Regions from separate parts of the Homo sapiens genome. Here regions 1, 2, 3, 4, 6 and 7 are each reported to be linked to region 5. The links are microRNA targets in miRTarBase. Many come from high-throughput screens and were not tested one by one. Region 5 holds a microRNA gene; each other region holds the end of a gene's coding sequence.

Region 1 (4,078 bases), not on the chromosome of region 5:
GAGTGTACACAACAATGACTCAACACTCTAGGACTCAGGAGGGCACAGAAGAGGCTCCCATACAAGCCACCCCAGGAGTAGACTCCATTTCTGGAGATCTCCAGCCTGACACTGGAGAACCATTTGAGATGATCTCTTCCAGCGTCAATGTACTGGGACAGCAAACACTCACATTTGAAGTTCCTTCTGGCCACCAGCTTGCAGACAGCTGTTCAGATGAGGAGCCAGCAGAAATTCTTGAGTTTCCCCCTGATGATAGCCAAGAGGCAACCACACCACTGGCAGATGAAGGCAGGGCTCCAAAAGACAAACCAGAAAGTAAAAAATCTGGTCTGCTCTGGTTTTGGCTTCCAAACATTGGGTTTTCCTCTTCTGTTGATGAGACAGGTGTTGATTCCAAAAATGACGTCCAGAGATCTGCTCCCATTCAAACACAGCCTGAGGCACGACCAGAGGCAGAACTGCCTAAAAAACAGGAGAAGGCAGGCTGGTTCCGATTTCCCAAATTAGGGTTCTCCTCATCTCCTACCAAGAAAAGCAAAAGCACCGAAGATGGGGCAGAGCTGGAAGAACAAAAACTTCAAGAAGAAACAATCACGTTTTTTGATGCCCGAGAAAGTTTCTCCCCTGAAGAGAAGGAAGAGGGTGAACTGATCGGGCCTGTGGGCACTGGGCTGGACTCCAGAGTGATGGTGACATCCGCGGCAAGAACAGAGTTAATCCTGCCCGAGCAGGACAGAAAAGCTGACGATGAAAGCAAAGGGTCAGGCCTGGGACCAAATGAAGGCTGAGAGGTATGGCTCATCAGTACAAGAGAGATGCAAAAAACTAAGTTGGAAAGTAAAGGCTACACACACATATGGAGCACCCCATCCCACAGCACATTACATCCACCTCACTTCACAGAACGGAGAACAGAGCAGAAATGACCAGAACACCTTTGTCACCATCACACAGCCCTCCTAAAATGGAACCAAAGCTTCCCAGCTCCCTCAAAGCTTTGGATGCAAAGAAGGCACCCTGACTTCCACAAGACACCAGAATTCACACGGTACTCAGAGGCACTGCTGGGGAAGTTTGTTGGTCTTTATTAGATAAATTTCCAGAGACCTGTCCATAATACCCAACAGAACATGACTGTTTCTTTGAGGAAAGGGTTATAATGTCTGTGGTGTACAAGTCGTTTTTGGTATAACTTCTTTCCTGCTGCTGCTGCTTCCCGGCAAACATAGTTTTCCTATTTCAGGCAGAGTGCGGTATATTCCAGGAAACACTGTTTCCTACTCACTTAGCTTACTTCTTTGTTGAATGCCTCACTAATGGCAAGTTTCAAGATGTTTTGGGTGACAATGCACACATGCTGGGCAAAAGGGTGATGGCCAGTGGCTGGCAGCTGGGCCAGCAGAAGCTAGGACATCTGTGAGTTGTCATTCTCATCTATCCATGTCCACTGGCCTGCCAGCATCCGCCAGTGCCTTGCCAGTGTGCACGGTCCCACACTGTGGCCCCTGAGTCCCCTAATGTACACGCTGCAGCCAGAATGCAGATGGAGCTGGCTTGGCTGTTCCCTGGATGGGCAATAAAGAAAGTGCTGCATCCCATGCTGAAGGCTGCTGAGGTCTTCTGTCTCAGGGTCGAAGTTTACCAGGGCTTTCCTCCCACACACTCCTGGTCTCTACTAAGCAGCTCTAGAGAACAGTCAATGAGGAACATTTGGGTGGTTGCCTACCTATCATCCATTTGTCCAGGTCCTCCTCTGAGCCAGAGGCTGTGAGGAAGACAAGGAAGATAGGGCTGAGTTCACAGTGTGGCAGGGACACAGACGTACAACCCTCCCTCCCTCCCTCCAGCTGGAGGCAGTGTGGGATGGGAGATGGAGTGCAGAGTGGGGACAGCACAGAAAGGTGACCTTGGCCATCTTTAGTGGCCCATCCTCAGAAGCTTCCTTCACCACAGAGGCGCTCTTGGGCAGCCCACAGGAAGCAAATCCACGTGGCGTAGCGGATTGAGGTTCAAGGGTTTCCCTACAGTCTTTCAGTGGTCAAATCTCTTCCCAGATGCCCCTGCCAGATTCATGGGTATGCAGTGTTCAAGGGGGCAGTTGGAACTTGCCCCCAGCTCCCTCCTGGCCTAGGTGGGCTCCTGGTGAGAAGCGCTTATGGCCCCCTGGGGAGGTGGCTGCTCTCATGGCTGTGGATATGGGAGCAAGAGCTGGGCTGTGAGCCAATCTGGAGGACCGCAGTGCCTGGAGGGTGAAGGCCACTCCGAGGCTACCACTCGTGCTGCCCTGAGAGGTTCCAGAGGGGTGACAGCTATGGGGTGCAGGAGCCTGGGCAGGGGAGAGGCTGGGTTCTTTCCCCATGCCACCATGGGCATATGTTCCCTGTGCTGAGTTGGGGAGGCCCGTGGGTGTCATCCAAGTTAGGGCACATAGAAGCCTCTAGAAAGTGAACTGACACAGGTCCCCTGGGGGCTCATGAGCAGGGGAAGTGGGAAGGGAAATTTGGTGGACACTCATCCCAGTTAAGCAAGGCCATCACCCTCTCCCTTCCCAGGGCTTCCTGCCTTCTCTACTCCAACTTGTGTGTGCCAGACAAGCTAGGTGAGTGCAGCCCAGGGGGAGGAGTCTGCTTGGCTCCATGGGGCTTTTGTCCCTCTCTGATCCAAGAGTCAAGGCCTGGGATAGTGGGGACCTTGGTGCTAGAGGCCAGAGAGACAGCTGTCCCAGCATGTGAGGAGTGGCTGAGCAGCAGGGGCCCCCACAGGGTTCTCGCGTGGCCTTGGTTCTCTGTGTATGAGTTATCTATGCTGCATAAGAACATCACTACAAATTAGCAACTTAAAACAACACACATTTATGATCTCCCAGTTTCTGTGGATCAGGAGCCCAAGTGTGGCTTTGTTGGGTTCTCTGCTCAAGGTCCCATTAGGCTACAATCAAGATGTCAGCTGGGGCTGTGGTCTCCCCTTCAGGTATGACCAGGAAAGCAGCCACTTCTGAAGCTCACGTTGTTGCTAGCCACACTCAACTCCTTGTGGATGGGATGATTGAGGGCCCCAGTTTCTTGCTAGTTGGGGGCTGGAGGCAACCCCAGTACCCTGCTACATGGGCCTCTTCATAGGACAGCTCATAGCCTAGCAGCTCACTTTTTAAAGCTAGCAAGGGATAGACTGCTATTCCTTGATAATGTTATAATCTTATGTCACATGATCACAAGGTGTCACAGGAGTGACATCCCCTTACCTCTGTATTCTATTGGTTACAACAAGGCACAGGTCCTGCACACACTCAAGGTGAGATCACACAAGGGCATGCATACCAGCAGGTGGGGGTCAAGGGAGCCATTCTAGAGTCTGTCTGCTATAGCCCAGAAGGGGCCACATTGTGGCACCCTCCTGGGGTCTCCCAAGCCTTGTCAAGCTGGATTTCCTTTGGAATAGGCATCTGCCTTGAAGCAGGCCTCTGTCAGTGCCACTGAGGTGTGACTGCCAGTCCCCAGGTGTGTGGAAAGAGGCCTTTCACTGGCTGAGGGCCACCAGCCAGTTGTCCAAATCACAGCCTGGAGCACAGAGCCCTCCTAGAACATAGTTGGCAGGCCAAGAGAGCAGGCCAAGTGCTCTGAGACACATTCAGGTATAAGGCCAAGAACCAGGGAGCAAACCCACACGTGCAACCCTGGAGGGCAGAGCTTAGTCTGGGATGATATCGGCTTCTGAGCCAGGTGTTGCCACGAAGCTTTTTGCCAGATGGTTACTGAGGAGATATGGAGCATGAATGAGGGATAGGAAGCCACAGGGAGCAGCCACTGCAACTGCCAGAGCTTGGCTTGGCCAAGTGCAGCTCACACACAAAGCAGCCCCCAGAAGCTCCTGAAGGCCTTGCAGGGCTATGTGGATCCCTATCCCCCTGCAGCATCTGCAGCAAGCTTTTCACAAGCTTGGGCAGGGAGGCAGGATGGGTGTAGGAGATTTCTGCACAGACAGAATGCTGAAGTCTAAGGTGTCCTTTAGATGGGGGAAGTATGAGGTCACTAATCGAACAGAAAAGTAACTTGTACTGTACCTGAGATGAACTTTG
Region 2 (4,073 bases), not on the chromosome of region 5:
TGTGTTAGTAGATTCCTGTTTAAGTTACCAAGTTGCCATCCAAGTAGGCTGTTTCAGTTTCTATTCCCACCAAGAGCGTAAGTTCGTTTCTCAATAATGTTGGTTATAGTTTCACCACCTGTGGGCCAATAACCCATTGCCATTTAAATCTGTATTTTTATTAGTATTATTTTTACATGTTTGCCGGCTCTTTGGATTTGTGTGTATGCAATTCCTGCTAATATTATTTGCCCCTCTTCTTTAGGTTAAATTTTCTTTTTCTTATTGAGAAACAGCAGAGTGTAAGTATGTGGATTCTGGAGTAGACTGAGTGCAAATCTGGGTCTGCCACTTGCTCAACGTGGGACCTCAGAAAAGTGAGCAAAACTTTAGCTTCAACGCTTATTTGATAAGGTCTTATGAAGATGATCTGAGATACTGCATGCAAAACACCAAGAATAACGCCTGGCACATAGTAAATGCTCACAGATAGCCAGTCATAGGAGCTCTTTTGTTTTTCTTTTACTTAATTCCCAATGTGATAACAGTGAACCACTTGTTGGTTCTTTTTATTTTTTTAATTTTGAGGTTTTTTTTTTTTTTTTTTTTAGAGACAGGGTTTCGTTCTGTTGTCCAGTCTGGATTGCAGTGGGGTGATCACAGCTCACTTGTAGTCTTCACCTCCTGGGCTCTAGCAATTCTCTCACTTCAGCCTCACGAGTAGTTGAGACTACAGTCATGTGCCAACATGTTCAGCTAATTTTTTTTTTTTTTTTTTTTTTTGTAGACAGGGCCTTGCTATGTTGCCCAGGCTGGTCTTGAACTCCTGGCCTCAAGTATTCTCCCATCTCAGCCTCCCAAAGTGCTGTGATTACAGGCATGAGCCACTACACTTGCATAGGAGCTCTGTTTTTTATCAATGCCTTATTAAATATGTTATAAATATTCTCCCTTTGTCTGTTGCTTAGTGTTTTGACTCTAGATATTTATCAGATTTTTTAACGCAATCAATTCTGTCATTCTTTTTCCATACAGATTTTATTGTAATCTGATTTTTTATCTGAACCATTTTGTTCAACTGACTGCTCCAAATTTCAATTCACATTTTCTTTATTCTGCTTTATGATTTTGTGGTCAGAATCTTTTTTTTTTTTTTTGAGACAGTCTCGGCTCACTGCAGCCTCTGCCTTCTGGGTTCAAGTGATTCTCCTGCCTTAGCCTCCCAAGTAGTTGGGATTACAGGCACGCACCACCATGCCCAGCTAATTTTTTATATTTTTGGTAGAGACAAGGTTTCACCATGTTGGCCAGGCTGGTCTCAAACTCCTCACTTCAGGTCATCCACCCACCTCAGCCTCCCAAAGCGCTGGGATTACAGGTGTGAGCCACCGTACCCGGCCAAAATCTTTTCTTCTTTGGTCTCACCAGACACCATTCTTGTTTTTCTTTCATAGAAGACAATCATTAGACTTGTCTTTTCTACTTTTCCCCTTAAGAACAGTGTTCAGGCCAGTCGTGGTGGCTCACATCTGTAATCTCAGCACTTTGGGAGGCCGAGGCAGGAGGATCATTTGAGGTCTGGAGTTCAAGACCAGTCTGGCCAACGCAGTGAAATTCCACCTCTACTAAAAATACAAAAATTAGCTGGGCATGGTGGTGTGTGCCTGTAATCCCAGTTTCTCAGGAGGCCGAGGCACGAGAATCACTTGAACCCGGGAAGCAGAGGTTGCGGCGAGCCGAGACTGTGCCACTGCACTCCATCCTGGAGGAGAGAGTGAGACCCTGTTTCAAAAAAAAAAAAAAAAAGAACAGTGTTCTTTTTTCTCTTTCTTCTCTTCCCACATCATATTCCCTGGATGATCTTATTCACTCCAATAGTTTCAACAATCCCCCTTAGGCAGATGACACTGGAAATCTTCAGAGTGACATTTTCTACTGTTTACGGAGTATTTCTAGCTTGAGGTCCCACAATCACCTTAAGCTAAATTTCTTCTAAAGTTGAATTTTATAAATACTATCTATATATTTAGATGATCTCTAAGGAATACTGTTATACTTTTTGTTTAACTTACAATAAATGGTATGTATAGAATATTTTTATGAACAGAAGAATATAAATATTTGTATGCAATATGTGTAGTGGCCTCTGGCAGGACATAAACATTGGTAAAAGTAGTTATGACAGTAGGAAAAGACTTGCTTTTTAACTTTACCTTCTTTATGCATTCTGAATTTTGTACCAAGCTTTTGTGCCCTTTAATGCCTACTCAAAAATAAATGCAAGTCTATAAATAAATACAAGGGACCTTCTTATCAGTCCCATCAAACCTATTCCCTGTTTGGCTGATGATATCACTCATCCATTCAGTATCTGCTAAAGACTTGGGAATTATACTCCCTATCCTCAAATGCACATCCAATTACCATATTCAGTTGAAATGCCTCAGAAATAGATCCTTCATTCACTTATGCATTCAATAGCAGCCCTAAGAACACACAATAAGCCAAACTGGGTAGAGAGAAAAAGATGGATGAGACATTGTCAGCACAGTACCCTCAAGAAGCTCCCAGCCCAGGGATGCAGAGCAACCATGCCACACATTGAAACAGTGCTTCCTAAACAACTGATTCCTTTAGACATTTACAGGTATTTATTTGAGTAAGAGCTCATAAAATATATTTTTATAATATGCACAAGAAAAAATACATTTGAATGAATAAAAAATAAAATGACAGGAGGTGACAGAATTTAGTGTTTATAAATGAGGTCATAAAGAACTTTAATAATTCAGAGAAGAAGTTCAAAGTGTATTTAAAAGTTGAGACCCTGCTTTACAATATTTTATAATTTTAAAAAAAGGCGTTTAAAGGTGATAGGTGACTTAATAATTTTCCACTTTCAAAATGGGTTTCTAGACACTGTTGTTCATGAACCAAAAACAAACAAACAAACAAACAACAACAAAACCCAAACACTTTGGCAAGCAAAGTATTATTAGTACATAGCAGCTTCATAACAGTTTACTTTTTTAATATAAAGATTTTTCAATTTACACTTGTAGGAGTAGAAAAAACTAATATGCTAAGTCTGTAAGCTACGCAGCAAAAATAATGATCTTAATGAAGCCAGAATTCTGTGAAAATGTGCACCACACTGCATATATAGTAGCTGAGTAAATGTAAACCATGTGCTTATTAACTCTTCTATATAAAATATTGAACCCCCAAGTCTCACACATTGCCTCCTATGTCCACATCACTTTTCTGAAGACAGCCTCATGCTTTAAGCCAATATATATTTGCTATTTGAAAAAGTTCTCATCCTCATTACTAAAAATGTTTCTGTAAAGGCCTTAGACATTTTTTTCAGTACCCTAGTAACAAGTCATATCACGATCAATAAATGATCACAGCCTTTCGAAAAAACTACTGAGATTGGAGAATGGGTTTCTGTCTCCAACCCCTGAAAGACGTTGCTGCTTCAAGACCTACAGCTCCAAGAAGACAACTCAGAATTTCTTACTTTTAAAAAAATATTGTCATGAATAACTGAATAATTAGATTTCTAGGAAAATGAGGCTTTTAAATTAAGATTTAGCAAAATCAACTATAATGTATTTACTTCTACTCATTGATGAATGACAGAAATCAGTTAAAGTTTTACATACAAAAGATATAAATACTGCATAATACGTAGTGAATATTGGCACAAACCCTTTCGTACTTAAAGCATAAAATGCAATCAGTAAATCTGATGCTCTTAAGTGTGTTTCTTAAGATGACATCAAAAACCTCTAGATAGCATGGAAATTTCCCGGTTTAAGGCTTTCCAATAGGTTTGTAGCAAGCATCAGGTTGCCAGAGGCGAATATCAACAAGAACTTGATTGAGTTTTTGCATCCAGAGATCCCGCTCTTCTTTAGTATCTGCAGACAGCCAGTTCCTACAGGAACAAACAACCAAAGAGGTCAGAATTCTTCTCCCTCCATTCCATACCCCCATGTACTCTTGCTAGGGAAAAAAATGACTAAATAAACCAGTAAATGAATTACCTTTAACCACCTTTTATGGATGCTAATCCACAGCCACTTAGT
Region 3 (4,078 bases), not on the chromosome of region 5:
AATAGATATGGACACTGTTCATCCCTCTCACCACCTTTCTTTCAAATATCCGTTCAGTTCTACCTCATATGCAATTTCTATTCCTGAAAAAGAACAGCCATTAAAGGGGGAAATTGAGAGTTACCTGATGGAGTTACAAGGTGGCGTGCCCTCTTCATCCCAAGATTCTCAAGCATCGTCATCATCTAAGCTAGGGTTGGATCCTCAGATTGGGTCCCTAGATGATGGTGCAGGAGACCTCTCCCTATCCAAAAGCTCTATCTCCATCAGTGACCCCCTAAACACACCAGCATTGGATTTTTCTCAGTTGTTTAATTTCATACCTTTAAATGGTCCTCCCTATAATCCTCTATCAGTGGGGAGCCTTGGAATGAGCTATTCCCAGGAAGAAGCACATTCTTCTGTTTCCCAGCTCCCCCCACAAACACAGGATCTTCAGGATCCTGCAAACACTATAGGGCTTGGGTCTCTGCACTCACTGTCAGCAGCTTTCACCAGCAGTTTAAGCACAAGTACCACCCTCCCACGTTTCCATCAAGCTTTTCAGTAGGATTCTGGGACATGGATTCATTACAGAAATGTATGTGTAGCTGTGCCCTAGATGACCATTTTTATTTTAGTGCCTACTTTAAAACAGTATAAAAATTTCTGCTTTTGTATAATACAAATTTTCATTAAGCCAGTATAAAATAGAAACTAGCTTTTAAACTGAGCTTTGGAACCATTTGTGTTCAGTTAAGTTTACCTGGGTATTTTGTCCTGATTCACTGCCAATTGTCACATTTTAAGACTTTTTTTTTTCCATATAGGAAAGCCATTATTAGTAGTAAACTTTTACAAATCCCATTTTCAAATTACTTTTAGATCTTAAAATTTTCATTTTTGTCTAATAACAGTGGCTCTACCTTTTGACATCTGGCTCATTAAAAAATTTAGCAATAGAATGTAAATTGTATAAAAAGTTTGTGAATAACTCAAGGGTTTAAATTTTCTTACTAGCTTCTAAATGGATTAATAATCAAGTGCTTCAAATGAATTAAGAGTCCAGTTTCGGAAGATAATAAATGTTTGTTAGATACACCATAATTTCAGATCAGTATATTCTGAAGACTCCCTGTTGTCTGGCTAAAATATTTGCCATCTTTATTATGAGCCTTTAAGGAAAACAAACCCTAAACACAAAGCATCAGTATTTATAGCAAAAAGAGACTCTGTTAGGTGACATGGCATTTCGTGTCACTTAATAGTTGGCCCTAAATTAGTACACAGGATATTTTGTCGTGTTTCATCCTTCTTAACATGCTATCTTTTCATTTAATAATAGTAATAGTGTATGGCATTGGGGTCTTCAGAGTCGATATATAGGTAGATCTCTTTAGTCTTTTCCACCTTTCACATCCAAGGGGTGGGTCAAGTGCAGCCAGCAATTTATTTTCATTGTTGGCCCACGGTTAGTCCATAATCTAGAGCCATTGTGGAACTGCAGCCATGAGGTGTGTTTATCCCACAGTGGATTGACTCAGCCTCTGTGGGTGACAGACTTCTAAGCAGGAAGATAGACGTGAAGCACATGGTTACATTTGGGAACTTGTGTAGGGATCATGGCCCCTGTAGCCAGGGTTAAAAACTGGACTTTTTAGAAGTAAAGTAAAAGCATATCGCTTATATCATTTCTTGCTGAATTTGATATGTTTTTCTTTCCCTTAAGAATCAAAAGCAGAAAACAAAAACAACAGTCCTACTCCGATGTTATCTTTCTGATTCAATGTGAATCCATCTTTCCTTGCAATATTTTGGATGGAGAATTTGAAGTTAAATGCATTAGAAAACTACCTGATGAACTACCACAAAGTTTTAAGTGACTAGAAATATATACAGTAAAATCCCACTTTCATGCATCTCTGGGAAATGATAGGAGTATTGCAAATAAGTTGAGTTTGTAGAGGGTAACAAAGTAAAGTAAAACAAACCTATCTTGGTTAACATGAAAATAACAATTGAGAATATATTATATTCACTGAATAATTATAGGCTTTTCCTCACATTAGACAACCAACATAATCTTCTTAAAGGTCTAATTAATATATTTTTCTAAGGGTCAGTTGGGACATTAACCTAAGAAACATATCTATTAAGCACTTGTTAACACCTTATTTTAGGACCCTTTCCGTTGGGGATGGGGGCAAGGGTGGGAGGTTTTTAGAAGAGTATATATCTCTTTAAAAAAAAACAGAAAGAAAAATATTTCTGAGCACTCATTAGCCCTATATGGAAACTTCTTTCCTTTTTGTAGGGCCAGTTATCACTGCAGATTGCAATGTTTACCAAGAATTTCTAAAAATGAGTGCAGATTACTGAATATAATACATTATTTAAAATATTTGGGAGTAGTATAATTTGTGGAGAAATGTAAATTGTAATAATGTAAATGGGGGCTTCAATATATATATATAATACACACACACACACACATGCACACATACCGCACTTCATAGAATCAAAGTTGCTCTCTGAAGGAGCTTTGGCTCCTGATATTTTATCATGCTCCTATATTTTTTTAATCCTTGGAGCAGTAGTTTTTATACTTATGTATTTAAATTTTATTATGAAAAATTACATTTATTAAAAAAGTGTGTTCCAAAGGCATTAAAATTATATATGTTAATAAGGAAGTACATTTTTAAATTTTTCAAACTGCTCCTAGCTTTTGATTAGGAGAATATTTTTTCTGAAAGTAGGCTTTTCGCTCTGCTTCATTACTGCTTCCTTTAGTTTCTATGAAACAGATTGCTTACCTAAATCTTTAGTTGAATGATTAGTGTTCAATATTGCTTTAATCACCATATAAAAGGAAAAAAATTGGTGACAGAGCACAAATAGAAAACCTATTTTTAAATAGAAATCACAAATAGCAAGTGTGGAAGCACTACTTTATTCTGTTTAAAATGTACTTAAGAAGTCATCAAATTAGTGAACTGAGACATTGGCCTTAGTAGGCTGTATTCACTGCTAATTTAAAAAAGGGAGTACCAGGATTTATTAAGTAAAGCATTTTGGAAATGGGGAATAGCGCCATATATGTATGTATGTGTATGTGTGTGTGTGTGTGTGTATATATACACACACACACACATACTTAAATCTTGCCCTGCATGAAATTCAAATACATGGAGGCACATCTTCAGGGCACCAGTGTTAAAATTTTGGAGTCTTAATTTTCATGTGTACACCTCTTTGCCTGTTCCCACCCCCAGACTTGAAATAACACTTCAGAGTAAGAGGGAATTCAGCTAATTTGTTTTTAAAATTGACTGTAGTGGTCACTAAACCCTTTTTGAGAGAATTTCTATTAAAGATGAGGCAGACTCGCTTATTTGAATTGCACAATGTTCTAACAAGGATGTAACACAGAATTGGCTTTTTTTTCCCTAGAAAAAGATTGTTTGTTTCTATGTCAACTAGATATGATTAAAAATAAGTATTGCCAATGCTGTTTTCATTCTCTAGTGGCCAGAATCATTATCCTTGAAATTTCTGGTAGTGCCTTAGCTTGGTTAAAAAAAAAAAAAAAAAAAAAAAAAAGGGATTAACATTAAATAAAAGTAGTTTAGAATTTGGGCCTCAGACAAGATATTGAACCTCATTCAGTTTCACTTCCACATGTATGTACAAGTTAGGTCACCAAACACGGAAGTGTGAGTGTGGAAGGATCTTGGCACTGTAAGCAATGCTATCCATTGATGTATACAAGTACCTTTATAGTTATCGATCACTGTTAAAACTTTCATTTTAAAATCCTATTACCAAGTTCAGTTTTTTAAAACTTCAATTGTCCTGGCTGATTATGCATCACTCTGTGTGCAACTTTTTTATTTCATTTAGTGTTTCTTTCAAGCTGTGTATTTTTGCCTATTTGTTGCTTGTGCTTTATTTTTCTTAGTCATTTGTGGAATATAGTGATATATTGTGTTAATTTGGACAGTAGCGGTTTTTAAAAACCATATACTGACTGAAACATGAGCCAGAGCCGATTGCTTTATTAAGCTAATAATGAATGTTAAAGAGTACATATTTTCAG
Region 4 (4,000 bases), not on the chromosome of region 5:
AGTCATGCACAATTTTAAATCTCTGTAGTTTCTTCATAAGCTATTTTACTATCTTACTATTTTATAAGCCTTGTGTTGCAGTCAAGTTTTTACCACATTCTATAGACCTTGTCTGTACACCATTTATGAAATGGAAATTTGAATATGACATCTTTTATGCCCTCTACTTACTTTTAAAGCAAAAATATTGTTGAATAGGAACACATAGCTTTTATTTAAACAATGTTTTTTCCCCCTAAATTTCTTGTATGAATACTTACCTTTGCTTAAAAGTGCTTGAGAAATACTGCCCCCCAGGAGGCATTTGACAATGTCTGGAGACATTTTTTGATTGTCATGACTGCGGGGGGAGCATGCTCTGGCATCGGGTAGCTAGAGGCCAGGAATGCTGCTAAACATACCTTCTAGGACAGGGCTGCTGTCCTACAAGGTACAGGACAGCCCCTGCAAGGAAGAATCACCTGGCCCCAAATGACAGTAGCGCCCAGGTTGAGAGACCCTGTCCTGGTGTGATAAATGGTGCAGAGACAAGTGGCTAATGGTTTATAGTAATTCAACTACTCCCTGGAAACAGTGTAAACTAGGCTGATTACCTAAGGCAAGGCTAACCAAAGCTTTCAAGTTCCGTATATGTATGTTTAGCACTTATTTAAGGAAGTACTCACCTAAAGGAGGTGAGACAGAGTAAAAGGAAGGATGTGCTATAATTGTTTGTATAGCACATTGAAAAGCTAGTATTTACATATACAGTACTAACTTTTTTTTTGTTTGTTTGTTTGAGACAGAGTCTTGCCCTGTCACCCAGGCTGGAGTGCAGTGGCGCGATCTCGGCTCACTGAAACCTCTGCCTCCCGGGTTCAAGTGATTCTCCTGCCTCAGCTTCCCGAGTAACTGGGATTACAGGCACCTGCTACTACGCCCAGCTAATTTTTATATTATTAGAGATGGGGTTTCACCATGTTGGCCAGGCTAGTCTCAAACTCCTGACCTCGTGATCCACCGGCCTCAGCCTCCCAAAGTGTTGGGATTACAGGTGTGAGCCACCGTGCCTGGCCACATTGTCTTTTTAAATAGTCATTTTTTTGAGACAGGGTCTTGCTATGTTGCTTAGGCTGGACTTGAACTCCTGGGCTCAAGCGATCTTCCTGTCTCAGTCTCTCAAGTAGCTGGAGCTTCAGGTACACACCAGCACCACTAGCTGTTAAATATTCTTTATCAAGCTAATGACTAGTTTCTCCAGTCTTTTTTTTTTTTTTTTAAATAAAATTTTGTTGGAATGAAGCAGCAAATTCTCACAGCTGTTAAAAGAATTGGACTCTGGCATACCTAACTGGAGAATACCATGCTGTTTTTTCTATAAACCGCTGGCATTTTATGCCTTTTTTGTTTGTTTTGTGTTGTCAACTACAAAGTAATTCTGTAAACAGTACAGATAGCCCTGGACTGCCACCACGGGCCAGGCCAGGGTAGTCAAGGTTGTCCATATGCACATGGGCAGATAACCTGTTTTCCTTTGACATTTTTTTCCAAGTCAAATTCTTGGAGGATTGTGTATTTGTATTATAGGAAGTCCAGATCATAGACTTTTAAAACTAAAAGCATCACTGCTGAACTCCAGCTCAGTCTTCCCATTTTATAATGAGGACTCTGAAGTTTATAGAGGTCAAGGACTTGTCCAAAGCTTTAGATATGTAGTGTCTGTGCCCTTTTCCTCTAAGTTTCTCCTAGAGAATGTGGGGGCTCAGGAACAGAGAAAATAAGGTGCAAAAAGTAGAAATGGGTGGTGTTTCTCAAAGTGTGGTCCATCTGCATCCTAGTGACTGGGGTGCTTGTTAAAATGCAGATTGCTGGGCCTTATCCCAATCTGACCAAATCATCTCAGGATCTACCTTTTGAACAAACTTGCCTAGGTCAAATTCACTCTTGTGGAAGTTTAAGTACTTCAGAAACAAGACAGCCACAGAAGGTGCACCTGCTAATTTGGTGGCTTCCAGTGCCTCATCTGTAACTTCTGGTGAAATCCTGAGATGTCTTACTTTACATTGTTTACATCCCATAACATTCCAACATTTAGAAATTCACTCGAGCTTATTTTTCTTACTTGTTTAGCACTAAATGAAAATAGCTCCCTGAAGTTAAGGAGTTTATATACAGTAATTCATGCAAGTGTGTAAATTAAACAGATGACTTTCCCCCCTAATATCTAATGCACAGCAGCTGTCCTGAAGGAGTGGGAACTTTGGATGAGGGGTAAAGGAGGGGATAACTTTGGACCGCTGGAGAGAAAGTCAGGCTGTAGAGGGCTTCTATAATAATGGTACCACCAGGAGGTGGGAGAGTGGTTCAGTAAGGGAGGAGGAAGGTTGCCAAAGAAATTACTCATCTTTCAGAAATTCACTAGGTTACTGCCAGTCAGCCAAACAAATCCTAGAAGAGAACTGTTGTGCCTCCTAAAAGAGAAAGGAAATTTCCTCCTTTTCCTTCCTCTGGCACAGGATGGGCTTCTAGCAGATGGGATTTTACATGTTATATTCTGAGTTTTAAACAAAATTTTGTGCCTTATTCTCTATATCGCCCCCTCTCCTAACTTAAATGGACATATAGGAGGTATACTCTAAGCTCAGTTATTCAAGCATGTTTTGATCATTAGAGCAAGATGGGGTGTGGAAGGGGCAGCCGTGGTCTAAAAGGAACCAACAACAAATTTTACCTAGTTTATAAATAAAATTATCACTTGGAAGTATCATCTGTGGCAACTTTGGATGAGCAGCATAAATTGAAAAAACCTGTGTTTTGTTTTCCCCTCTTGTTAACATCAATATTCATTAAAATATACACAAGTGGAAGTACTTACATATCAAGCACTTCCACTTCTGTAGTTGCTGTTTAAAGACAAATATTTTAAAGAGAACAGTTTTCCCCCTTAAAATCTGAGAGTATCATATTTTTCTTTAAAAGTTGTCATGCTTGGAAGCATTTCATGTTTCTGACACAATGCAAATTAGAATGTAAACTCTGGGCCAGCCAGTTTAAAGATTACTTTTTTTCCCCCATCATATAAAATAGGTATTTTCCCTATTATTTCCCTACCTGCCCCCCGCACCTCCCCCACCCCCCACAATTTCTTCATTCCAAACTGACCTGCAGTTTTCTCTTAAAATACCAGGTTAGTTTACCTACGACATGATAAAAAAAATATGGGATTTAAAAAGAAATCCATTCACGCAAACAGCAAACCCTGGCTGGGATGCTGCCGGTTCCCACTGCAGGTAGGTCTGCTGGTTCAGCTACTGAGCTCTGTGGTCTCATCAATCTCATCTGGATTTTTGGTCATCTTTTCATATTTTCTTTTGAAGAAGCCGAGCTGTAAAGGTGATGATATAAGAATGTTACCACCCGTGGCTTATTTTGTAAGGTGCCTCTGACCCCCTTGGCTGCCCACGTCCTCTGATGCACCTCTGGGAATCCCTGAGGCTCTGAAGGGAGGTGTGCAGACTGATGACCTGATATCTACCACCTGCTAGAAGGAAATTTATATCCAGAGAGCTCAGCTGCATTGCATAAAGCTACATTTTTCAGCGTCTACTTATTTGAAGCTGAACAAAACATTCAGGGCTCTGGATGAAAGGAAGGTTTAAAAGAAGAAAAATCCTTACTGGTTGTTTTTAATGACATGAGTAAGAAATTATAAACAAATTTGCATTTCTTTTCTCCTTGTGATAGAGAAGGTACCATATAAAACCTGAAGTTGATGTTTTGTAAGCAAATTCAAGGCTGGCCTTCAGGAGCCCTGTATTTTAAAATATAAAGCTTTTCTTACCTTCCATAAAATTGCAACCAGAGCTAACAGCAAAAGGATTCCAGCAATTATACTTCCTATTATAACTCCTGTTGGTACTTCGGCTTTCTCATCAGGTTTCATTATCATCAGGGGAATCTGGAAATGTCAGTTCACAGTTGAGTTATTTTAATACCACAAAAAAGGGGGGAGATGGTCTAG
Region 5 (4,078 bases):
TTGTGCGTGGCACAGCACAGAGTCGGTGTTAATAAATGATCGTTGGGTGAGGGAATGAATGACAGATAAAAATACAGACAGGCCCATAGCCCAGACTCCTGTTTCACAGTTCTCCCTGCTGCGAACGGGTCGACCACAAACCACCGCCACTCCCAACCACCCCAGTTCATGGAATTCCCCCAGACGGCTGCAGGCTGTGTTGGTGGGTCTGTTTTGAAAAGCCCTTCCTGGCGAGTTGGTTTCAGTGTGCTGTGTACAGCAGCCGTTTAACGTTGATGGTGGAAAGGGGTGTCTAAGGTGGAGGTGGTTGTGATTTCTTGTGATTGGGGTCCTCCCGGTTCCCGCAGGGCCTCAAGAGCTTTCCGCCTCCCCTTACGGAGGACCTCTTTATGCATCCGTGGAAGGGGTCCCAGAAATCGGAAGGAGGCGGCTGGTTGGCTGTGGGATGCATAGCCTGTGGGCGGGCTCCACACCCCCCCTCCCATTTTTGCTATCCCCCCTCTCCCCTTCTGACAGTGCGAAGTGGACGGAGACGGAAATAGAGATGCTGAGGGCTGCTGTGAAGCGATTTGGGGACGATCTTAATCACATCAGCTGTGTCATCAAGGAACGGACAGTGTGAGGGAGGGTGGCTGCCAGAAAAGGGCGGGTGGGCAGCCTTCTTCCTCCTTACCCAAGGTTCCATCGTCCTCAGAACTCCTTTCCAGCTCAGCTGCTTCCCTACTTTGTCACTAGTTTTTTAGAATCCCCTTGAGGACTGAAAGAATAGAATTGTCACAGTTGGTCAGAAGTTCCTAAAATGCTGTGGTAATCCTTCCAAGAATGTGAATTTAGGTTGCCTGAGATGCTGTTATTGTATTTGATGATGGAAGTCCCCTGGTTATTTATATAAATGTTTGAGGACCCCACTGCAGTGTTTCCAGGGATATGGTGACCCTGAACTAGTTGATCAGTAAATCTCAATCCACCTGTAAATCACCAAGCTCTACCTGATGTCTCTCCCAGAAGAGAATTAGGAGATGGGCCTTTCCCACTACTCAGTTCAGGGACTCCACTCTCCACACTCCATCCATCCTGAGTGAGTGTAAAACTTCGAGAAAGTGAGAACCCTACCAATGGGTTGGGGCCCCGACCTGGATTCTTATGAAGGGACTCCCAGAACCCCTTCCCCTCCCGTCCCCTCTTCTGTTAGTCTCTCTGATGACTCCTTTCCTAACCTCTTCTCTCTTTTCTTCAGGGCCCAGATAAAGGCCACTGTGAAACGCAAGGTATATGAAGATTCTGGCATCCCCCTTCCAGCTGAGTCACCCAAGAAAGGGCCCAAGAAGGTGGCATCTGGTGTCTTGTCACCTCCTCCAGCTGCCCCTCCTCCCAGCAGCTCCAGTGTCCCTGAGGCCGGGGGTCCCCCCATAAAGAAACAGAAGGCTGGTGAGGGCTGTGGAGTTGCTGCCTAGGGGTTAAAGGTCCCATCTGAGGTTTAGTGAGAGAATTGGGCCTGGGTCAAAGAAGGGTCAGTCTCTCTTCCTGTCCCTGTGGAGGTTCCCAGAGAGGGGCAGAGGGGAGGGGAGAGGAGGCACAAAGCTTTGGGAAGCTTGGGGCTGGGGGAGAGGCTGTCAGGGGAACCTAGAACCTAGCTTATGCCCCCTTCCCAGATGTGACACTCAGTGCTCTGAACGACTCCGATGCCAACAGTGACGTGGTGGATATTGAAGGGCTAGGAGAAACTCCTCCAGCTAAGAAACTCAACTTCGACCAGGGTAGGAGTCCTCCTCCTCCCACACAGCTGACGGGGTTGGGGAGAAAGGGCTCACCTGGATGGCAGGGCACGGTCTCCGCAGGGGCCCCTCCCTTGTATAGGGGTTTCAGAAGAGAAGGTGCTCTCATACACAGCGCAGGGCATTGGATCAGTACGTAGCAGGGTGTTTCAGGGAGGTGGGAGTGGCCTTGGAAGCACACTGGGGGCTCGCTCCATCTCGGCCCATTTTACTTCCTGTTCCAGACAGCCTGACCCTGGATTCTGGCCTTCTCATGACCTCTGCTGATCCTCCTCTCCTCTCCTGCTGAGCCTTCCACCTCTGACCTCTCACTGTTCATGCCGGACCTGTGGATCTCCTGGGACTCCGAGCAAGGCCTGCACGAGAGAGGGCTGAAAGGCTGCTGGGGCTGCCACCTCGCTATTCCCGCATAAGCATCTGCCCCCAACCCCTTTGACCTTCATCTGATGGACATTTTTATACAGAAAACAATAAAGATTTCCCTCTCAGCTTCGTGCTGTCTGCTTAACATTATTAGCAGGAGAGGCCTGTTCCCTCTTCTCTCCTCGGCCCATGGGGGCTCAGCCCCTCCTCGGTAGTTTTCACCACCCTGCCTGGAGCAGCACAGCCAATATTGGCAGACTCGCTTCCCTGTGCCAATATTTCTGTGCTGCTAGAGCCAGGGAAGCTGGGTGTGGGCAACAAAGACTCCACTTTGTTCTCTTGAGGCAGAACTTACTCCCAGGGTCTCTGGCCATCAGTATTCTTGAAACTGCCCTGGAGATTTTAGAGGGGTGCTTACATACCCCACCCTCTCCTTGCCCACCTGGCAAGAAGTTTGTCACAAGGCCCCAGATGTTTTTTGTGTCACTTCTCCAGGATGGCCTCCCAGGGCCAAGCCTCGGCGGTGCCTCCCCCACCCTCGCTCTAACACCACAGTGTGGTTTGGACGTGGCCACAGTGCCGTACAAACCACAGTGTGCTGCTGGGGCGGGAGCAGGACCGGGGTGGGTTGAAAGGAAGAGAGCACATAGCAGTGCTGGGAAGACCCCAGCACCACCTCCAGGAGCGGGGGGATAGAGAAGCCTTAAAAGGCAAACATGGCCCCCAAAAACGTTTGGGAGGAACCAGGGACGGGCTGAGCAGGCAACTGGAAGGCGACGGACCATGGGGATGAGCTCACAGTGTAGTAAGATTGGACCATCTTCCCTCTGTAGGAACTCAGCTCAGGGGATCCCTAGGGTGGGGTCAGAGGCAGAAGAAATAGGGAATGACTGGAGGGGCCAACACACTGCCTCCTGTCTCAGCAAGGGCAGGGACCCAAGGCTTCCTGTGTCCGTCCTTCCTCTCCCTGGGTCAGAACCCAAGAGAAAAGCAAGGAGAGACAGAGGGCCAAGGCCAGCAGGGTTGGGAGTTGGCAGTCCAGAGGTGGTGGGGCCGGAACATGGTTGGGAGAGGGGGGCCGGAAGTCGCCCTGGGCCCTGGGCCTGCCACAAGATGGAGGCCAAAGGCAGGAAATGGAGACCAGGGGGAAGGGGAGCAGCAGAGCCCAGGAAGAGGGCCATCTGGACCTGGGGGGCCAGGTATTCAACCCCCAGTGCTGTTCCCACTCCCCAGGGCCCCTGAGGACCCGAGCCGGCCCCCACAGCAACCTCCATCAGCCCATCCACCAGGCCAGGGCAGGCGGGCCCACCCCAGAGAGCCACGTTTAAGCTGAGACAAACATGCCTCTCCCCACCCCCAACTCCAGGCCTTCCCTCAGCCCTTTTCTCCTGTCCAGGACTTGATTTTTTAAAAACACCCCTCAGAAAGCAAAATCCAAGGGCCAAAACTCCTTTTGCAAATCAAAATATGACCCCCTAAAATCCAGAAGTTATCTTCCTATATCCCATCGCATCTTTTACCACCCCCTCTTCCGACACACCCCCCAAAACTCTTAGCAATCTGAAAGATCCAAGGTGGTGTATGTAAGCAGTCTTTTTAGGCCCCCGAAGATGCCAGACCCCTCCCGGACACCCCTATCTGCCCTCCATCAAATCTTGCCAAGGCCTCCTGCTCCTCCACCACCCTCCATAGCCCCCAAACTAACAGTTGCCCCCAGCTCCTACCTCGGCAGAGCCTTTGTGGGGGGTGAAAGAGAAATTAAACACTATCCTAACGGCTGGGGATGTTGGGGGGCTCTCTGGTCTCAGCCTTTGGTTTCCGTCTGGGGGGCTGCAGTTTAGGGGTATAAGAGAAAGCCTCTCCAATCATCCCCCCAATTCCAAGACTGACAAAGCCAACCCCACCCCAGCACGCACCTCCAAACCTCCCCCCCAACCGCC
Region 6 (4,078 bases), not on the chromosome of region 5:
GGATAGCTTGAGACGAGGAGATTGAGGCTGCAGTGAGCTAAGGTTGCACCAGCCTGGGCAAGAGTTAGATCCTGTCTCAAAAAGAAAAAAAAAAAAAAAAAAAAAAAAAAGAAAGAAAAAACTGAGGCCCAGAGAGGAAAATACCTTGCCCAGGAAGGTGACACAGAGAGTTAATGGCTCTAGTCACAAAGGATAAGCATTTTGACAGATTCATGGACTCTTGGGTAGCTCCATCTTCAGCTCTGAAGACCTCAAAGTCATTTTGTAGCCTGAAGTGCTAATTAAACCAGAAGAATCATGGACTTACTATTTATAGGGAGGAGTGAAGAAATTAGACCATGAAATCTGGGGACACAGAAGGAGATCTTGTCTCTTGAGATTCACATGTAACATCCAACTTTCATATTTTAACAGAACTTGGGTAATGCAGTCTCAATTTTCCTAATACTGGACTTATCTGGGTTGCAGTCTTGATGAACCACACCTACTACAGAGGTTTTTGCACCATAAGATAACCCCACTTCTTCTGGCAGATGCTGCCATTACCCAGTGGACAGGTTTATGATCCTTCCAAACATATCACTTGCTTCAAAAGGACCTAATTCAAAATCATTTTTGTTATTTTGAGAGCTTTAACCAGCAATACACAGTCAATATGCTTTCACTCCATGTACAAGTGAAAAGGACAAAGCAAAGCCATGACTGTTTTTAAGAGACATACCACTTGGGTTCGCAATTATCTCACATTTTTCGTCTTTTTACTGTTCAGCGTGGCTTTCCGTGTACTGCCAAAATCAAATCGCTCTCAGGAGGCCTACTGGTGTGAACAAAGGCGCTAAAATCAAAGAACTTCCAAGTTTTAATCTGTCAGAGATTGGCTGTGAAGTATGGGGGAAGAGTCATTTAATCTCTCTCCATCAGTTCCCACTTCTGTACAATGAGGGTAAAACTATGGCGGCACCTCTCATGGGTACTGTGTGGACTGCCTAATTAAAGCTAATTAAGCCCCTGGAAAGAACCAGAAAATACTACGTAAATGCTGAGTATTTATGTGCCGCTAACAGACACAAAAACTCCCAAGGGACAAGATTCTGTGCCGACAGCACATTCTCTATTGGTGATTACTAATCACCCACTGCTTACAAAGAAAGGCACTGTTTTCAGTAACAGGGTAGTTTAAAAAAAAAATCACACAATGTTGTTCAACAACACCATCTTTATTCAAAAATATATATCTATGAGACATTTCAGAATATACTGCTGCCGCCAACGACAGCCTATACTTCTAAATAGTCCTAAATTAATATACAAATTTAAGCTTTGAAAATATTCTTTAAGAAAAACAAACAAACAAAAACAAGGGAAGATTGAAGACTTTCTGAGGAATATGACCTAAAGGAAAGGTCCTTTGAGGCCTACAGATGCCCTAAGAAAGAAAAAACACAAAAACAAAAACCACCCACCCCACCCACCAAGTCACCTCATACATACAAGGAGGAAAGTTCATTTAAATTAAACAAATGAAGTAAGCACACTTTGGGAGGATGTGGACAGCAGAATTAAGATTTAAAAAACGAAAGCATTTCATCAAAACAAAAAACTAACTTCCTCACAGGAAGTCCACTAGTAACAGGTATTAAGAGGCCAACACATTCATTTACATAATTGCTACAGTTTCATTTCTTAACTTTTGCTGTAATAATTATGCACCAATTGCTGGTCAGAGACTCAGTTGGATAAAACAGAGCAGTGGGCTAAATCCATTCTGCTATATTTTCATCTAGTTGATCAGAGCAAATATCTACGATCCTCTTTTGGCTGGATTGTGGCTGCTCAGATCGCACTTCCTTGGTGAAAGCATAGAGTGTCCCAGATGGGCCTGCTCCAAAACACGCTCATCTAGAAAGCAGCACACCACGGGGGGTGGGGGAGAGGTTGGGGAGTGCAGCAGCAGCAAAGATTACAATTTATCTTGCAATTTTAGTGATGTCACCTATGGCCTCTGGAAGAAAAACCTTATAGACTCATTAATTTAACAGTGACAGAACGACAGGCAGTGTCCATAAGCAAACAACACACAGTCTGAATTCAAATCTGAATAACAGCTCAAACACTACTAGGTTCTACACAGAGTTAAACTGAGTATCTGCTATGACTTTTCATTGTTCTCACTTCATGACAAGCAGGAGAGCTTCTGGAAGGGAAGCCCGTTATGCTTTATAAACATAGGTTATGTTTCAATGTGTTTAACATGTAAAATTACATGTAATTTTTGGTGATCCTGGAAGTAGCAACACAAATTAATGGAGATTACAAAGCCCCCTCCACTGAATTCCTTTTTATATAGTTTGGGTTTCAGCCTCTGGTCTATAACTCCTATTACACTACTGGGGCAAATCGCTTTCTGCCCTTTCCAATGTCAAAAATAAGCCTGCCAAATTAGAATGATTTACAATTGGCAGGCTGAACCTTTACTATAAGCAAGATAAAAATTGTCTCTAACTACATTATATAGTCATAATGTCAGCTGACATGATAATAGAATTAAAACCCCCAATTAATATCCCCAACTCCCCGCTTCCCCTGCCCGAGACGAGCTATTCAATAACATCTGACGCAAGTACTCCCCGTCGTGTGGGGACAAGGACCTGTGCAGTGGCGTGACATGACAGACGGACCTGCTCAGCGTCCTATTTGCAGTGATGTTCGAGTTTAGCCACCGTACTGTGGACATGCACCCAGACAGCGGATTAAACGTTAGTGTGTACCCTACTCCCAGAAGAAAGGGTCCAAGAAACACCCACACAGATCCCAAATGCAGCACACCTGTGTGTGGGGCCTTCATCTTTTGGAGCCCACCAATGCCTGCCATCCCTAACAACTGCCTTCGCACCCACCAGGGATCAAGGCATTCTGTTTTTCGGAACGTGCTCCGACAGTGGAGAAGTGCAGCATGGGAAGGTTGTATCTAGGAACTTGAAGCAAATAAATTCCTTTTAATTCATGCTTGTGATCCCTGTTATTCTGTCTCTGAACTGTGCCTTTATGCTCCAGATTAGCTTTGAATCTTATTGCTAGATTCTCCAATCTGTTTACAAAATAAATGCACCTAATCTTCGTGCATCACTAGGAGAAGCAATGGAAAGGGAGGATCAGAGATTTGGCAAACTCTTTATGGCAACGCTACGACAGCTGTGCCTACAACCTTTTGGGGCAGATGCAGCTGGGAAAGCCAACGTCTCCAGGACAAGTGCCTTAGTGGAAGCCCACACCGAACTTGAACAAGCCCAGCCCAGAAAGGAGAAGCTGCTTTCATGATAAAATGCTGTCATGAGGGACAAGATTCTTTCGAAAGCTTCCAGAAGTACACATGATTTTCATAACTTCTTAGGTATAAGGAGACAGTTAAGAATGGAAAACCAACAGGGGGGCATGAAAATATGAAGTGGGAGAAAAAGTCTGTAGTCTTTGCAAATATGAATATAAACCAGATTCCAGTCGCCACTGTTCTGAACTGTGCTCAAGATGAGAGGCTGAAGAGGAGAATCAGAGTCTGAGGTTCTTTCTTGAGGCTGGGGGGCTGGGCGGAAGAAGGGATAGAACCAGGGGCTAGAAGGTTATTTCCAACCATGACTTGCCCTCTTCTTTCTGCTGGTACAAACAGAAATCTGGGACATGACACCCATCCTAGTCAGTTGAAAACAGGTCCCCAGCAGAGGGCAGGGGGGCTAAGCCCCCTGTGACGTTGGGCAGCAGTGAGAGGTCTGGCAAGCTCTGAATATGGGATTTCAGTTCCTTGCGGACCTGGGTTACTCGTGCAAGCTTCTGTTTGTATTCCTAAGGAGATAAAGAGAAGACAATACCGTTAAGTCTGTGCGTGCCGAGGGCATGGGTGCTGCTGGAGCCGGGCAGCTACTCTCGTCCTCGTGTTCTTCCTTGTCCCCACCAGCCTGCCCACCCTGTTCAGCTATATCACAAAGCTAGGGCTTCAAATGCTCAAAAGGCAAAACTTTCTATCAAAAAAGGAACGCAGAGTGCCATATTGGCAACAGTGAATTAAATGGTATTCAATTTAGGG
Region 7 (4,078 bases), not on the chromosome of region 5:
TAGGTAATCATTCCTGGGGTATTTATCCAGAATCTATCTCTACCTTACCAGTGGATAATAGTCTACTGTCCAATTCTGTTTACTCTGAATTACCATCAGCTGAAGGGAAAATGAAGGTAACTGTTACACAAATAACAGTGGCACTGAGCAGCTTAAAAAATATTTTTACTCCTCTTCTTTTTCGAGGACTTCTGTCTTTTCTGACCTGGTGGATTGCTGCTTGCCTCTTTTCTACAAGCCTTTTTGGGCTTTTCTATCACCAGTATCTGACTGTGGCATGAATCTCAGTTAACAAAAAAGCATATCCAAATCACCCTTTAAATTAAAATATCTGTGCCCTTAAAGGGCTGATGAAAACCAGAAGAAAGCAAATACAATGGGAAAAAAAAAACATATCAGAATGTCTTGTATTAAATGTTTCCTCTGTATTCTCAGGGTGAATTAATGTAGTAATATTTAAAATTACAAAATAGATTGTTAACTGTTACACTGTGGCATTGGAATTTTAACTCTTTGTATTTACTGGTATGAGAGGGCTATCTACAAGGGTAATATTTCTGATTACCCTGGTTTACAGAAACCTCCAGCAGTCTTTGAAACATCTCACATGACTCTAGTTATTGATTGCTTTTAATGGTTTTATGGTACTGTTGATAGTCATAGTGGCTGCCTATAGAACAATCTTCAAACTGAGCCATGCTTTAGGGGAGGGAAAGGGGCTAAAGTCTCTTCTGTTGGTAATTTATTAGTTACTCTTGAAACAATAAAATCCAACAGAAAGGAAGAGATAGCTACTGTATATTACAGTAAAGAAAGCTGCATAGTTATTTTAAATTTAATGGAGATGAATATGGTTAAAATATATAACTACTGCTGCTTGAGAATAGCAAGAGTATTGTTTTAAAACATATTCCACCCAACTTGAGAGTTCTTTTAAAATGATTGGCCATATGAACATTTGTAATCTTGCCATTAGGTTTGGACCTGCCATATTTTGTTTTATTCTGTGATCCTAACTAGTTCCTTTTAATAGGCTAAAATATTTATCAATACTGATCAGACTTTAAAGAAATTACTTTGTAAACCTGCTGACTACCTGTATGTATTGTATATATATTATATATTAAATATATAATATATTGAGATTATAAAAGATGAAAATATTGAATCCTTATAATATTTTAAGTTGCAGAATGTATGTTAAAAAGTGACTTGAATGAGATGTATTTGTATCTAGAAATTTTATTTCTTTTTGGAATGAGATTAAAATACATTTTGAAAGTTCAGCAGAGTAAGCAATTTATTTGTGTTGCCTATGTGTGAGTGTATTTAAAGTTTTATGGACGCTTAATGGTTTCTCCCAAATTAAAATTCTTTTTCTGTCATTTCCAAAAATCAGAATCTTTCCCTCTCAAATCAGGTCTACAGGTATCATGTATGCCTTTGTTAAATAGGACTTGTTTTAAATTTGTAGTTTCTAGAATTAGAAATATTTTTGTTTTACTGGCCAAAACGGATAATTTGAATGAAACATTCAAGGGAAATGAAAAAAAGTAAAACTCTTTTTGATGCCTTTTACATCTAAAGTTCAAAATGAAGGGTCAAGATTGTAAAATGTGTAAGAGATAAAGGTAGTTTTTTTGTCTTTTCAAATAAATGAATACATGCTTTTCCATATAACTCTTAAGAGGCTGTCTTTATGTTTCAGTGCTGTTAACACTGTTGAAAGCAAGTTTGAAACTCTTCTTTTGGAATAACTTTCAGGGCTTTTAAGGTTCACAGTCATCTGAAAATTTTAATATAGCAAATTCCTGTCTTTGGGTGTAGATTTAAATATTTTGGAAATAGCCATGTTTTAAAAGGAAAGGAATGCTTATACACTGCTGAGGATGTAAATTACTTCCAGTCCTATGGAAAACAGTATGGAGATTCCTCAAAGAACTAAAAATAGAACTACCACTTGACTGAGCAGTTTCATCATTAGGTATCAATCCAAATGAAAGGCAATCATTGTATCAAAAAGAGACCTGCACTCATCTGTTATTGAAGCAGTATTCACAGTGGCAAAGTCATGGGGTCAACCTAAGTGGCCATCAGTGGTTGATTGGATAAAGAAAATGTGGTATGTATACACCATAGAATACCATGCAGCCGTAAAAAAAGAATGAAACTATGTTCTTTGAAGCAACATGGATGAAACTGGAGGCCATTATCCTAAGTGAACTAACTCAGAAACAGAAAATGAAATACCAGATGTTCTTTTATAAGCGGGAGCTGAACAATGAGTACTCATGGAAATAAAAATGGAAACAGTAGACACTAGGGATTCCAAAAGAGGGGAAGTGGGAAGGAAATGAGGGTTGAAACACTACCTGTTGCATACTATGTTCACTATTTGATTGATGGGTTCACTGGAAGTCCAAACCTCAGCATTGTGCAATACACCCATATAGCAAACCGGCACATGTATGCCCTGAAACTAAAATAAAACATGTAAAAAGTTGAGTAGTAAGTACTTAAACTGGATAAAACTGACTGAAATGAATTGTGAATATATCCTAATGACGCTTCATGTGTATTTCCAAAGGAAGCATTTCAAATATATTTTGAGATATATCAGCGTCATCAAAATGTGTTTGTTTTATAATAAGATGATACCAAAATTTCACATTTGTTTTGTATCTGAAAATTCTCACATGTTGGACTAGGGAAGAATCTCACCTGGTATTTATAATCATTCTTACCAAAGAGCTACATTTTAAAAAGTAAAATTGAAGTTATTATTTTAAGTTTCAAAGATTGTACAGTGCAGTAATATGGTGTAAAAGACATAGAATTCATTATTGGATGGAATAATGTATATTCCTAAAGTTCTGTTAATTCATTCTTTTTAAACTTAAACTCTAAGTATACTCTGGCTTGAGCAAACCAAGTATTTTAAGTAACAGGTTTGGTTTAGTTTTTTTAGCCTTTCAAAGCAAATTTGAACTAATTGGTTTATTTATGCATTTTGTCTTTGAACCAAGAGTTATGTTCTTCAAATACAAAAGAGTTTGTACTTTATGTAAACCAAGTAATATTTTAATATCCCCAAATTAGACCAGTATAGTTCTTTTATTTTGTATGTTATACTTTAGTCAATATAATATGCTTCAAAGCATATATAAAGTTATTTTTATTGTATGTGTTTGCCCTTATAATCTTGGTTTTGTATGATTAGTAGGATTGCGACAATTTATTGGTTCCTGTCTTTCCGACTACCCCACTTGCTAGCCATTGCACTATAAAATCAGAGCTGTATTCTTCCTCCTACCCCCATTGATTTGTCTGAAATGAAAAGCATATAATTTTATCTTAATATCCATGTGCATTTTTATTATATCAGTATTTTTCCCAGAATCCCAATTGATGTGCGTAAAATGACCAATGCATACAAGCAGAATGGGCTCATTGTCTTATTGTTTCTGATATAAATATCATTGGTAAAATAGTGGCATTTCTTCCTCAGTTATGATTCAGAAGAGATATTCATCCATTAATGGAATTGACAGGTCCAGGAAGCAATAAATAGAATTCATTATGAAATCTATAATTGGAACTTCACTGGATAGATATTATTCTTTCAAATGAAAGATTGAATTCTCAGTATTTTGAAGCCTAAGGTCTCAACATTCTCTGAATTCATATACAGTTTCTGAGCCATCACTTAATTGAAGATGTTCTATCAAGGTATATGGCTTTATTCAACAAAATAAAACTAAGTGATTTTTAAATGCAGATCATCCTGTGTCTTTGCAAAGATTTAGGTGTCTTAAGGAATCAGATTTAAACACACTAGTGATACTAGAGCTTGAACCCAGTGTCTCGAATACTTGTACCATCTCATCTTTTAACTCCTATCCATCTTATTATGTTCATACCTTGGGTTTAGAGCTGAGCTCGTTATGTGCCATGAAGACTCTGACATGGACACCAAGGATGGTCAAAAAGCTAATGTCTTGCTTGATGATATCTTGGGATTAAAATAAAAGCTAATGTCAACCTTTTCCTTTTTTAAAGTGGTAAACATTTTCACATA

What was found. The annotated mature microRNA hsa-miR-497-5p reads CAGCAGCACACUGUGGUUUGU and lies in region 5 at 2,722-2,742, opposite strand. An mRNA with a match to its seed (bases 2 to 7 or 8) in the 3' UTR can be bound and repressed. Matches are read on the target gene's strand: a 7mer-m8 pairs with bases 2 to 8, a 7mer-A1 pairs with bases 2 to 7 and ends in A, and an 8mer does both.
Region 1: miRTarBase lists AHNAK2 as a target of hsa-miR-497-5p. Seed matches in the 3' UTR shown: 7mer-m8 at 1,205-1,211, 7mer-m8 at 1,208-1,214 and 7mer-m8 at 1,211-1,217.
Region 2: miRTarBase lists ANLN as a target of hsa-miR-497-5p. Seed matches in the 3' UTR shown: 7mer-A1 at 2,983-2,989.
Region 3: the mRNA of PLAG1 is a reported target of hsa-miR-497-5p. The part of its 3' UTR that is shown has no 7-base or 8-base seed match.
Region 4: the mRNA of ITGA2 is a reported target of hsa-miR-497-5p. Seed matches in the 3' UTR shown: 7mer-m8 at 2,766-2,772 and 7mer-m8 at 1,281-1,287.
Region 6: miRTarBase lists RPRD1B as a target of hsa-miR-497-5p. Seed matches in the 3' UTR shown: 7mer-m8 at 1,950-1,956, 7mer-m8 at 1,947-1,953 and 7mer-m8 at 1,906-1,912.
Region 7: the mRNA of TMEM161B is a reported target of hsa-miR-497-5p. Seed matches in the 3' UTR shown: 7mer-m8 at 872-878.

What each region holds. Positions count from the first base shown.
Region 1 is chr14:104,934,776-104,938,853 of GRCh38, reverse strand. It overlaps AHNAK2 (AHNAK nucleoprotein 2), which reads left to right. Exons shown (of 7, transcript NM_138420.4): 7 at 1-1,601. The coding sequence ends at 791. It also overlaps a transcript of PLD4 not described here. Among named protein-coding and RNA genes, the nearest start is that of PLD4, 12 kb to the right of the region's middle.
Region 2 is chr7:36,452,326-36,456,398 of GRCh38, reverse strand. It overlaps ANLN (anillin, actin binding protein), which reads right to left. Exons shown (of 24, transcript NM_018685.5): 24 at 2,608-3,922. The coding sequence ends at 3,799. Among named protein-coding and RNA genes, the nearest start is that of ANLN, 64 kb to the right of the region's middle.
Region 3 is chr8:56,162,715-56,166,792 of GRCh38, reverse strand. It overlaps PLAG1 (PLAG1 zinc finger), which reads left to right. Exons shown (of 5, transcript NM_002655.3): 5 at 1-4,078. The coding sequence ends at 550. Among named protein-coding and RNA genes, the nearest start is that of PLAG1, 47 kb to the left of the region's middle. RefSeq lists an enhancer at 1-124.
Region 4 is chr5:53,089,883-53,093,882 of GRCh38, reverse strand. ITGA2 (integrin subunit alpha 2) reads right to left here. Exons shown (of 30, transcript NM_002203.4): 29 at 3,821-3,937; 30 at 1-3,364. The coding sequence ends at 3,284. Among named protein-coding and RNA genes, the nearest start is that of MOCS2, 18 kb to the left of the region's middle.
Region 5 is chr17:7,015,258-7,019,335 of GRCh38, forward strand. It overlaps MIR497 (microRNA 497), which reads right to left and starts at 2,765; the gene lies at 2,654-2,765. It overlaps BACC1 (BPTF associated chromatin complex component 1), which reads left to right. Exons shown (of 6, transcript NM_174893.4): 3 at 517-618; 4 at 1,238-1,428; 5 at 1,653-1,757; 6 at 2,004-2,263. The coding sequence ends at 2,008. RNASEK-C17orf49 (RNASEK-C17orf49 readthrough) reads left to right here. Exons shown (of 8, transcript NR_037717.1): 5 at 517-618; 6 at 1,238-1,428; 7 at 1,653-1,757; 8 at 2,004-2,267. MIR497HG (mir-497-195 cluster host gene) reads right to left here. Exons shown (of 3, transcript NR_038310.1): 2 at 1,812-2,131; 3 at 561-757. It also overlaps MIR195. RefSeq lists enhancers at 1-338, 751-1,950, 3,302-3,471.
Region 6 is chr20:38,089,485-38,093,562 of GRCh38, reverse strand. It overlaps RPRD1B (regulation of nuclear pre-mRNA domain containing 1B), which reads right to left. Exons shown (of 7, transcript NM_021215.4): 7 at 1,199-3,837. The coding sequence ends at 3,688. Among named protein-coding and RNA genes, the nearest start is that of RPRD1B, 58 kb to the right of the region's middle. RefSeq lists a silencer at 362-656.
Region 7 is chr5:88,192,414-88,196,491 of GRCh38, reverse strand. TMEM161B (transmembrane protein 161B) reads left to right here. Exons shown (of 12, transcript NM_153354.5): 12 at 4-1,445. The coding sequence ends at 281. Among named protein-coding and RNA genes, the nearest start is that of TMEM161B, 74 kb to the left of the region's middle.